3 linked regions of the Homo sapiens genome follow. The protein of the gene in region 1 interacts with the protein of each later gene in a pairwise test. Each region holds a gene or a part of one and is shown in the gene's direction. Other genes may lie near its edges. The genes, in order: DUSP10, PTK7 and ROR2.

Region 1 (3,651 bases):
AGGTAGGAAGAAATAGTCTACTGCCCCTTTTTCTTAAAGACAGTATATGCCTTCAAAAATGTTATTATAAACATTTTCAAGCATATAGAAAAGCAGAAAAGTGTGTAATGAACATCCATACACCTATCAACCAGATTAAACAATTATATTTTTCCTATTTGCTTTCTCTTTTCTGTTGAAATATTTAAAAATATAGATAATGTTTTAATGTATTTAAGTATGTTTAATGTGTAAATTAATGTTTCAAATTCAATAAAGCTGGAAATATTTTATAGTATACTATGAACATTTTCACTCGTAAACACTTGAGTGTCATGTACCCATTTTTAAGTGCTTTTCAACTTCGAATCCCTCTGTGACTGACTGGCAGTCAGGTCTACAGAGGAGCTTCCCTCCCTGGGAGTAGGAGGGCTCCAGGTGCCTCCTTGGGGTCTGTGTGTCCCCCTTCCTCCCTGGTATGTCAGAGCCCATGCCTCTACTTGCTCTATGCTGTTGTAAAACAAGGAATGACCAACTGCTACAATCTTTATAGGACTGCTCTGTACCAAAGGCCTTTACTGGGGGAATGTGAGAAGAAGAGGGAAATGGTTTAAAAGGATGATCCATGGGGAGGATTTGATCATGCAGGCAGTTAGGCCTTTATACTATAAAACTTCATCACTCCTTAGAATTGAGCACCATACATTGCACACTTTTCCCTAGTTGAAAAGAATTCTGAAATATACTCTTATTGGCAATAGAGTTCTATGACAAAGTGGATGGCTAGGCTCAGAAATCAGAGACCTGTGAAAAATATTCTGTTTCTGCCCTTTTTTCGGGGGTGGGGTGGGGAAGGGAATAAAAGTCTCCCCTTTTCTCTCAGAGATGTTATGAGGATTTTAAAAAATACCTGAAATAAAGACATATCTACATTCATAAACGTGCTGTTGTTATTCTGAGCCTCTGGTTAACATCCAAGGCTAAAATGTCAAACATTAGCCTTGTAGCAAATGATGGAGAAATCAAGGCAGAACTTCGGATCTAGTCAGCCTGAATGCTAGCCTTGGCTCCCCTCTAACTAGGTATGTGCCCTTGGGGAAGGAACTGAATCCTTCAGTTCCTTAGTTACCTCATTAACAAAAAGAGGATATAACAATAGCTATCTCAAAGTGTTAGTTTCTGAAATAAATGAATTAATGTGTGTAAAGTGTTCAGAACTTTATACACATACATGGTAAGCACTCCATAAATATGGTAGAATGTTTTTATTGATATTGATTGAAAGGAAATGATAGTGCCAGTACAAAGGCAAATTTTGTTCCTAAGGAGTACAAATAACAAGCTAGGTATAGTAGAGTGTGTGTGTTGCTATGGCCTAAAAATAACTTGGTGACTGTTAACTAATTTAAGTTGCATAGAGTTGGAGTGCCAAGTAATTGCAAAAACATATTGGGCCAGGAGGCTGGAGTAATTTGGGTATATCCAGAATTATTTGTTTTAGGGAAATTTGTAAAAACATGATAATAATTCTGTCCAAATAATGTCCCATAACAAAAGCATAAAACTTTTTAGCTTTGCTTTTTGTTGCCTCTCATCATCTCATCAGGAGGATTTATTTTTGGAATAAGGATTGTGGACTGACTATAAAAGGGTAGATGGAAGGAGGGGTGCGCTGGTTCCTGAGCCTAGGGTTGTGTTGAGTTAGAATGTGAAGGAAAAAGGAGGGAAGGAGTTGAATGGCCTGCTCCTGTCTTTCAGGAAGTCCTGAAACTTCTTTCTGAACTGCTGCACAGTTAGTTGGCTGTCCTCTCTCTGAGCTTTTGGGTACACTCTCCTGCTTCCTAATTTAAGTGTAGGTGAACAGATAATAGAAATGAACTCTCTCTCCCAGCCATGTTCTTGCTTTATCTGTTCCTCATTCACGATGTGCTCAGCAGAGTGAAATTTTGCTCACTTACACCTGGGTTCAAATCTAGGCATTTCCATTGACCAACTGTATGCCTTTAGGCAAATCAGGGGGCCTCTCAGAGGCCAGGTTTTCTTCATTGTAAAACAGGGACAGCTCCAGCATCCTAGGTTGAAACAAGGTGATACAAAGTACCTGGCATTTGATGGCTGTCAATAAATCAAGCCTCTGGACCCTGCTCTCCTACTCTCATGCACTAATGTAAGAACCTCTTACATTGCAGGGGCAGGGGTATTGGGGAGGATGGGCAAGTCGTTCTAAGCACAGTACTGTGGGAGCCTGTTAAGTATGAATACTCTTGCCCTTACCAATTCAGAACAGTTAATTAACTTAATCATCCAGCTTGTCATGGACAAGTTCAAGAAACTCCTCTCCTGGCAATAGGAGACATGATTTCACATTAGAAAAGCAAAGCAGGGGAAGGAAACTGAATAGGTAAAGCACTTTGCCTATTTCTGTTTTCAAAGCACGTGTGTATAGGAGAAAGGAGAAGGGAGAATGGTGAATATGTACACTTTTCTACTTGGTCCTTTAGGCAAACCCATCTGAAGGTCTGACAAAATTACAGGAGCAGAAAAACTTTCCGTCACATACTCCTGGTGCATACACCCTCAGGGACTAAGTGGGAGCTTTTGACCAGTAGCAAAAATCTAGTTCCTTAAACCCTGCATTATCAGAAGCCAGAACCTCCAAGCCCCAGCATTGCTGAAGAGCAGTTTGGGCATGAATGTGTGATATATCGGAGTGCTTAGGCAGTTTAATCCAAGTTGGTTGAAAAAGATAGACTACATATTAAGGAGAGAAATTCTAGTTCCAGGAGAGGTCATCTCACCTTTTTGGAACTAAAGAATCCCAGCTTTGAGAAGAGCAAGGAACTTTAGAGGGCCCCTAATCCAGTAGTTTTCACTGCAGGCTGTTCATTGGTATCACCTGAAGGTGATTTATAACCTATGATGCCCAGTTCGTGTGTCCAGAAAGCCTGATTAAATTGGTCTGGGGTGCAGCCTGCACATCAAGATTTTTTTAAAGCTCCCAAAGTGATTCTAACAGGCAGCAAAGTTTGAGAACCATTGATCTAGTCCGGTATTCTCATTATGCCACTACAGGAATGGGGCTTGTCCAAGGTCACATGCATGATTAATTTTAGAGATTTAGTCCTTAATGTTAAAGTAGGTCTTGCCAGGTTCAACAGATTCAATAGATATCAACAGACTGAGGTATTCGTATGTATCATTATTTAATAACAACAGAATCTAATATATAGCATAAAATATAAGATTTTTTGAGTACTGATGCCTTTTTTCTTGAATTTTGAGATTTCAGTTCAGAACTAAAAAGACCAAAGTCTGAGGACTTTCAAAACCAGCAGTTCATGGTCTATATATTTACCTGGATATTAGAATATGGACCAAATATTAATGTTGATTTAATCTCTTCATCTGGGGAACCTAGTGGTTTAAGCTGTTAACCTAGTGGTTTCAGCTGTTAACAGCTATCAAAACAGGTATCAAAGAAGCCCAACCATCTTAGGCTTCTAGGGACTTTTTGGTAGGTGGTCTCCACAGCTGTACAAACTTGTGGGCAGAGGAGATTCATTTGTTTGTTCAATAAATATTGTTGAATGCCTTTGGTGTGCTAGGCACTAATCTGCAGGCTGGGCAATCTGCATCACAATGCTTATCATTCAAATGCAAGAAAGACAACAT
Region 2 (3,651 bases), on another chromosome or scaffold:
GCTACAATTTAAGATGAGATTTGAGTGGGGACACAGCCAAACCATATCACTCTCTCTCGCACCTGCATTGCCATTTGCCTCATTGCTTCCCGAGCTGATCTCCTGTAGTTGGAACACACACCTGCACGTGCACCTGAGCAAGTGTATGCAGGCACACACACCAGTCTGGAGTGTCAGCTTCCTTCTCTCTGCCCTGTTCCTGGTCGATTCCTTACTACATTTCCGACTTTGCAGGAAAGGGGTTCCCTTGCATTCCTTTCCAGAACTAGGCCTATTGGCCACTTTCTCCAAATTGCACTCTCCCCTCTGCAGCCCCCCACACCTCCGCAGAGCCACAGTGTTTGCCAACGGGTCTCTGCTGCTGACCCAGGTCCGGCCACGCAATGCAGGGATCTACCGCTGCATTGGCCAGGGGCAGAGGGGCCCACCCATCATCCTGGAAGCCACACTTCACCTAGCAGGTGAGTCTCTGGGTCTGGGGTGCTGATGTGGGAGGCTGCCTTTAACATTTTTGGCACATAGAGATTTAGGCTTCTGTTTTTACTCAGCCGCTTGGAGGGCAGGGGAAGAAAAGGATGCTGGGAGTAGGAAGAGGATATGCAGAGGGCTGCAGGGGAGGGTTTGTGCTGGGAAAGGGCCTAGGCTTGCTGTGGGAGAACATCATGTACCCTGAGACCCACAATAATTGGGCCATTCCTCCTACTTATGTCCTTGCAGAGATTGAAGACATGCCGCTATTTGAGCCACGGGTGTTTACAGCTGGCAGCGAGGAGCGTGTGACCTGCCTTCCCCCCAAGGGTCTGCCAGAGCCCAGCGTGTGGTGGGAGCACGCGGGAGTCCGGCTGCCCACCCATGGCAGGGTCTACCAGAAGGGCCACGAGCTGGTGTTGGCCAATATTGCTGAAAGTGATGCTGGTGTCTACACCTGCCACGCGGCCAACCTGGCTGGTCAGCGGAGACAGGATGTCAACATCACTGTGGCCAGTGAGCACCTTTGCCCTGAAGGTCAAGGAGAGGTGGAGGGGAACACAGGTCTGGGTGTGATGGACAGAGGCTTCCCTGGTACTCACCTGAGGTCCTCTCAGTTCTGGGCCCTGCAGGCTTGGGAATCAGTTCACTACTGGGAGTCGGTGTAGACAGTAGAGAGCCAGGCACAGGGGTTAGGGTGGGTGCTCCAGAGGAAATAGTGACAGCCCTCACAGAAAAATGGTCCTCTGGGTACAGAGGAAAGAGCAATAGACTAGGAATCTAGAGACCTGGGTCCCACTATGCTCCCAATGCACAGAGTGACGATGGTAGCAAATCACCCACCTTACTGGGGTTCAGTCTCCTCATCCATAAAATGGAGCCAGTAATCTACTACCTACCCCACAAGGTGGTTGGAAAGGTCAAATGAAGTAGATGAAAATGATTTTTCTTTTTTTCTTTTTTGGGAGGTAATAGTGGACAAAATTATAGGTGATTTTTAATTTGTTTTAGTTTGTTATGCTTTCCAAATTTCTTTACTAAACATATTACTTATGAAAAAAAAGAGGGGGAGAAAAGCAAGACATATGACTGAAAGTACACATGATAAACCCTTTATATCAGGCTGGGCGCGGTGGCTCATGCCTGTAATCCCAGCACTTTGGGAGGCCGAGCCGGGCGGATCACAAGGTCAGGAGTTGGAGACCAGCCTGACCAACATGGTGAAACCCCATCTCTACTAAAAATACAAAAATTAGCTGGGCGTGGTGGGGCACACCTGTAATCCCAGCTACTCAGGAGGCTGAGGGAGGAAAATTGCTTGAACCCAGGAGGCAGAGGTTGCAATGAGCTGAGATCGCACCGTTGCTCTTCAGCCCGGGCAACAGAGTGAGACTCCATCTCAAAACAAAACAAAACAAACCTTATATCCTCACTACAGGCATAGGGATTTATTTGTTTACTTATTTCTTTATACCATGCCTTGTTCCAAACCTTTTGTGGTAGTTTAAAAGGATACACAATAAAAATTACAATATGCACACAGAGACACACATACATACAAACTATTTTGCAATCTGCTTCTTCCACTTACCTTTATGTTACTATTATCTTTCCGAGTGGGTAACTTTGCAAAAAGATTTGAATATGAAAGTGGCTTTGTAAATGTGAAGTTGTGATGCTAGTATTCCCATTAGGATACTGAAATCTTAGAAGACATGCACCTATACTCAGGCCGTGATTTGGGTGGGAATCACAGCACATGTGTAACGAGTGCTCAGGACACTCACAGTGCAGGTGCAAAGGCAAGATGCACAGTCAAGCCTTCCTCCAGTTGAGGTCTGAGAATCACCTGCTTTCATTAGGGATACTTTTTCTTCTTTTGTTTGAGACGGAGTCTCACTCTGTCACCCAGGCTGGAGTGTAGTGGTGTGATCTTGGCTCACTGCAACCTGCGCCTCCCAGGTTCAAGTGATTCTCGTGCCTCAGCCTCCCAAGTAGCTGGGTTTAAAGGTGTGTGCCACCACACCTGGCTAATTTTTGTATTTTTAGTAGAGGCGATGTTTTACCATGTTGGCCAGGCTAGTCTCAAACTCTTGACCTCAAGTGATCCACCTGCCTCGGCCTCCTAAAGTGCTGGGATTATGGGTGTGAGCTGCCATGCCCGGCCTCATTAGGGATACTTTTTAAAACACAGGCCAGGCGTGGTGGTTCACACCTATAATCCCAGTGCTTTGGGAGGCCGAGATAGGAAGATCTCTTGAGCCCAGGAGTTTGAGACCAGGCTGGACAAAATAGTGAGACCTTGTGTCTACAGAAATTTAAAAAGTTAGCTGGGCGCGGTGGCTCACGCTTGTAATCCCAGCACTTTGGGAGGCCGAGGTGGGTGGATCACGAGGTCAGGAGTTCGAGATCAGCCTGACCAACATGGTGAAACCCCGTCTCTACTAAAAATACAAAAATTAGCTGGGCATGTTGGCACTCACCTGTAATCCCAGCTACTTGGGAGGCTGGGGCAGGAGAATTGCTTGAATCCAGGAGGCAGAGGTTGCAGTGAGTCGAGATCGTGCCATTGCACTCCAGCCTGGGTGACAGAGCGAGACTTTGTCTCAGGAAAAAAAAAAAAAAAAATTTAGCCAGGTATGGTGATGCACACCTATAATCCCAACTATTTGGGAGGCTGAGGCTGGAGGATCATTTGAGCTCGGGAGCTGGAGGTTCCAGTGAGCTATGATCACACTACTGTACTGGAGCCTGGATGACAGCAAGACCCTGTCTCCAAAAAAATGTCTAAGACATTGCTGGAGCCTTGAAAAAAAGAAAAAAAATGCAGAATTCGGGGCCCCACTCCACAGCTTCCAACCCAGGCTCTAGGGGTGGGACCCAGGTAGATGTGTATTTAACAAGTGCTCTGGGTGATACTTCATGTGTGTTCAAGTTGGGGAACTCTGGCTTTGATCAGTCATTCCACAGATGCTGACTGAGGCTGACACTGAGCCATGCCAGTGTCCCTTGCTGTGCTCTGAGAAGGAGGCCTGTGGCATTTGAGAGTGTGTGATGCAAACAGGGCCAGATCAGGTGCTGGGTGTTAGAGGGTAGAGCCCAGAAGACGGAGAGCTCTGGGAATGCATTCAGTCAACAGAGATTTGTCGAGCACCTTGTGCTAGCTCTTCCCAGTACTGGATG
Region 3 (3,651 bases), on another chromosome or scaffold:
GACCTTTCTCCCAGGATGATAAGCATGCACACAGCCATCTGTCGCACAGATGGTGGCCACTGTGTTTCATCAGTTAATGGCATGGTCAGTGGGTGCCTCTTCCATTTCATTTGTGGTAGAAACCAGAGATCTTTTTTAGAAGTAGTGGCAATTGCTAACATGATTTGCCCTAAAAATGTTCCTGGCCTGTATGTTTAAATTAGCAAGTGTGGGTTGCTTGGAATATACTTCTGCACTTTTAACTCAGCCAAACCGTGTGGGTCCAAAGCACTGTCCTCACTGCAACGCCAGGGCCTCCTGCCCCGGGCCTGCCACACTGGCGCAGATAGCCTCAGCGCCCCCACACTCACTCTGCTTGACTTCTCATTCTGTACTTCCTGACTCTTCTATCCTCTCTGAGCCACGTTTGGTCCAAAGGCACCCAGGCCTGATTGCAGCTGTTTTGGGGAAAGAGTCGCGGGTCATCAGTGGTAGGGATGCTGCAGTGAACACACACTTTGTCAGTCCTGGGTTTCCAGAGAACAAAGCCACGTCTTTGGGTACCTGGTTCAGGGTCTGAGAAAGTGGCAAGTCAATTAGGAACTGCAGCTGCTCATCCTTGGTCTCATTAGGACTTAACTTCTCTGATTGGCTGTCCCAGTTCCCAGCATACAACTCGAACACATTGATGGGGTCCGGGGTCCTTCTTAGGGGAAAGGCCTTGGAAAGGAAGAAAATTAATTAGACAATAGTCCTACAGAGCCCTCCTCCTGCTGTCTCTACTCTCTCCACAAACACATACACATTTTCTCTCCAGATCCCATAAGGAGCAAGACACATCCTGTGCAGATGGCCGGTGCCCCAGCACCTCAGTTTAGTTGGATCCTCTCCATGGGAGCGGGAGGCTCTGCTGCAGATTAGAGTCAGTGGGTGATCTCTGATGCCTGCGCTCCTGGGAGAGTGTGGTGGGGCAAAGGGGATACAGGGCACTGACCTGTTAAGGGGTGACAATGAGGATCCAAGGCAGAAAGTCACCTCATGTCACTGACAAGCCCTTCTAAGTTCAGGTCACCCTCGGACTAGAGAGTCGAACATCACATTCACGGTCACAGAAGAGACTGCCTGGCCCATGTGCTGGTACAGAGACCTCTGAGGACAGGGCCAGGGGGTCCTGTGCAAACTGAAAGAGCCATCATGAGACAGAGAGGAACCTGGAGATGCCATCCTGTTCCAGCGGGAGATGGTTTTGAAAATATGGCTACCTCTCACTGCAAAAGCTTTCTTTGCCATTAAAGTAGGACTTCTCAAAGGTTTTTACCGAAACACACAGTGGAAAATAGAGAATATACTTTACGCCATGACTTAGTGTACACATACATGTATTTCACACAACTGACATAGGTTACAGGGAATAACTTTCACCCTTCGTAAAAGCGGTGCACTTGGATTTTTCTTTTCAGTTTTATTTCATTAAATAAAAAAGTGGCCGGGCACGGTGGCTCACGCCTGTAATCCTAGCACTTTCGGAGGCTGAGGCGGGCAAATCACGAGGTCAGGAGTTCAAGACCAGCCTGACCAACATGGTGAAACCCCATCTCTACTAAAAACACAAAAAATTAGCTGGGCATGGTGGCGGGTGCCTGTAATCCCAGCTACTTGGGAGGCTGAGGCAGAAGAATCACTTAAACCCGAGAGGTGGAAGTTGCAGATCGCGCCACTGCACTCCAGCCCCAGAGACAGAGCAAGACTCTGTCTCAAAAAAAAAAAAAAAAAAAAAAAAAAAAAAAAAAAAAGTTAGAGCCCTTAGTAGGAACCGTGCATTCTGACATCCTCTAGTCTGTTCTTACCATCTTTTAAAATGCTAGCTGCAGACTCTCAGAATTAATTAGACACCCTACTAATTGGCAAGCACTGATCCAGGGCACAAGATTGTCCCTCAGTTATCTCTTCAGGAGTTGTTTAAGGAATCAGCTTGCATCCAAGCAGCCTGGTTTTATAGCATCTTTTAGAGAAGAGTTTAGAATGAAGATTTTCTAGGTGGGTGGCTTTTTGAAAACAGTAAATTTGAAGTTGCTCTCAACAGACTTGTGGTTTTGAAATAAGCATAGTAATGACTGCGTTGTGTGCAGTGTTGTGTTGGAAAGTGTTGTGTGACATTCAGGGTGTGGACAGATAACAGGATGTGAGTTGTTGGATCTCTTTGTGCCTAGAATTGCACTTTCAGAAATAAGCAGTACATTCTCAGGGTGAGGAGAAGGAGAAAGAGAAATCCTATAAAGATCAGCAGAGACATCCTATCAGTGGATTAGCCCAAGAGAAGTGACAGCTTTGGCATTCTTAGACAATCTTTCCCTGCCTGGAGGTCAAGGCCTACCTACATTTTTGACAGCCATCCATATAATCCCAAATCTGTAATGATGGGATTGAACAGGGTTGAAGCCTCAGTTCTTCCTCCAAATCCAAGACATCCTGTACTGTAACTGCTTGCCCTCTCTGTTCCTCCATTTAAATATCGGCCACAGGAACCCAGAGGAGGGGAGGTGATGTGATGAGCACAGTAGTGCCTGCACACAATCAGGACAGCGTGGCTGCTCCCGCCCACTGACGCCGCCTTTTACCAGACCCCTGGGCCCATTCACGCTGAGGGCCACTTTATAGGCTCTGTGTGCACTCTCATTCCCCAGTGTGGGGTCTCAAATCACTCTTCAGGTACAGAAACAGGCCCGGAAAGGCATGAGTGATACCACAAAGTGATCACGCACAAGGCTGTTCCCACACAGCTGCCCATCCCGTTCCTGGGTGGGTTCCCAGGGAATGACTGACAGCGGCACTGCCACCTGCTGGCCAAACCTGGCACAGCACTTACACGCTTTCCTTGCCTGGAGGTCAAGGCCAGCATTCTTGACAGCCCTCTGTATAATCACCAAATAATCGCCAAATCTGTAATGATGGGATTGAACTGCATTCGTGGGTGGAGTTAGGGCTCCTCAGGGACTAAATGCCAGCTTCTGGGTTTTCTGCCACGCTGGAGGACACAGCCTCTGCTGGGTGTGCAGGCAAAGGGGCCTGTCTGCCTCCACTGTCCCCAAGCTCAATTGTTGTAAGCCAGCCTTTCACAGGTGAAAATGGGGTAGTGAGCCCAGGGCAGGCTGATGCATTCCTTAGAGCCCTGCCTTGGCCAGCTTCTTCACCCTTACCAGTGTCCAGCCATGCACCCCAGGTGCAGCAGATCTCTCCCCAACACCCCCACTTTGTTCCCGAACTCACCCCATCTTCTAACCACCAAACTGCATCCTCTGACATCTTGCCCTTAAAAAACAAACCGCCCTACCAAAGGGGGCTCTGGATCTTCGGGTTTTTCTGCTCCCCCTTATCACAGAACCTTCCAGAGTTGTAACGCGGCTCTCCTCCCACTTTGCTGCTCTCACCCTCTTGGCTTTCCGCATTTTACCAACTGTCTCCTCCAGCTGCAGTTCACAGAGCTGAGCTGACTCCCTCTTCCGGGACAGCCTTCTCCCCAGACAGATCTGGGACATTGGGAAGCCTGGGGCTCGGTACTGCACTTCTTGGCCTGCGCTCTCCACACATGGCGGGTCCTTAGGATCTGCTTTTGCATCTGAAGTCTGAACCCTCTTGTCCTGGAAGAAGCACCTAGCGGAGTGAGCTAGGGGG

The links.
Region 2: the proteins of DUSP10 (region 1) and PTK7 interact in a two-hybrid assay, tested with the Homo sapiens proteins (one study listed by BioGRID and IntAct).
Region 3: the proteins of DUSP10 (region 1) and ROR2 interact in a two-hybrid assay, tested with the Homo sapiens proteins (one study listed by BioGRID and IntAct).

What each region holds. Positions count from the first base shown.
Region 1 is NC_000001.11:221,732,088-221,735,738, reverse strand, and holds part of DUSP10 (dual specificity protein phosphatase 10), read left to right. Parts: exon of another isoform or gene 1-304; intron 305-3,651. UniProt on the Homo sapiens protein: Protein phosphatase involved in the inactivation of MAP kinases. Has a specificity for the MAPK11/MAPK12/MAPK13/MAPK14 subfamily. It preferably dephosphorylates p38.
Region 2 is NC_000006.12:43,131,704-43,135,354, forward strand, and holds part of PTK7 (inactive tyrosine-protein kinase 7 isoform a precursor), read left to right. Parts: intron 1-312; coding exon 313-461; intron 462-717; coding exon 718-984; intron 985-3,651. UniProt on the Homo sapiens protein: Inactive tyrosine kinase involved in Wnt signaling pathway. Component of both the non-canonical (also known as the Wnt/planar cell polarity signaling) and the canonical Wnt signaling pathway.
Region 3 is NC_000009.12:91,733,728-91,737,378, reverse strand, and holds part of ROR2 (tyrosine-protein kinase transmembrane receptor ROR2 isoform 1 precursor), read left to right. Parts: intron 1-3,651. UniProt on the Homo sapiens protein: Tyrosine-protein kinase receptor which may be involved in the early formation of the chondrocytes. It seems to be required for cartilage and growth plate development. Phosphorylates YWHAB, leading to induction of osteogenesis and bone formation.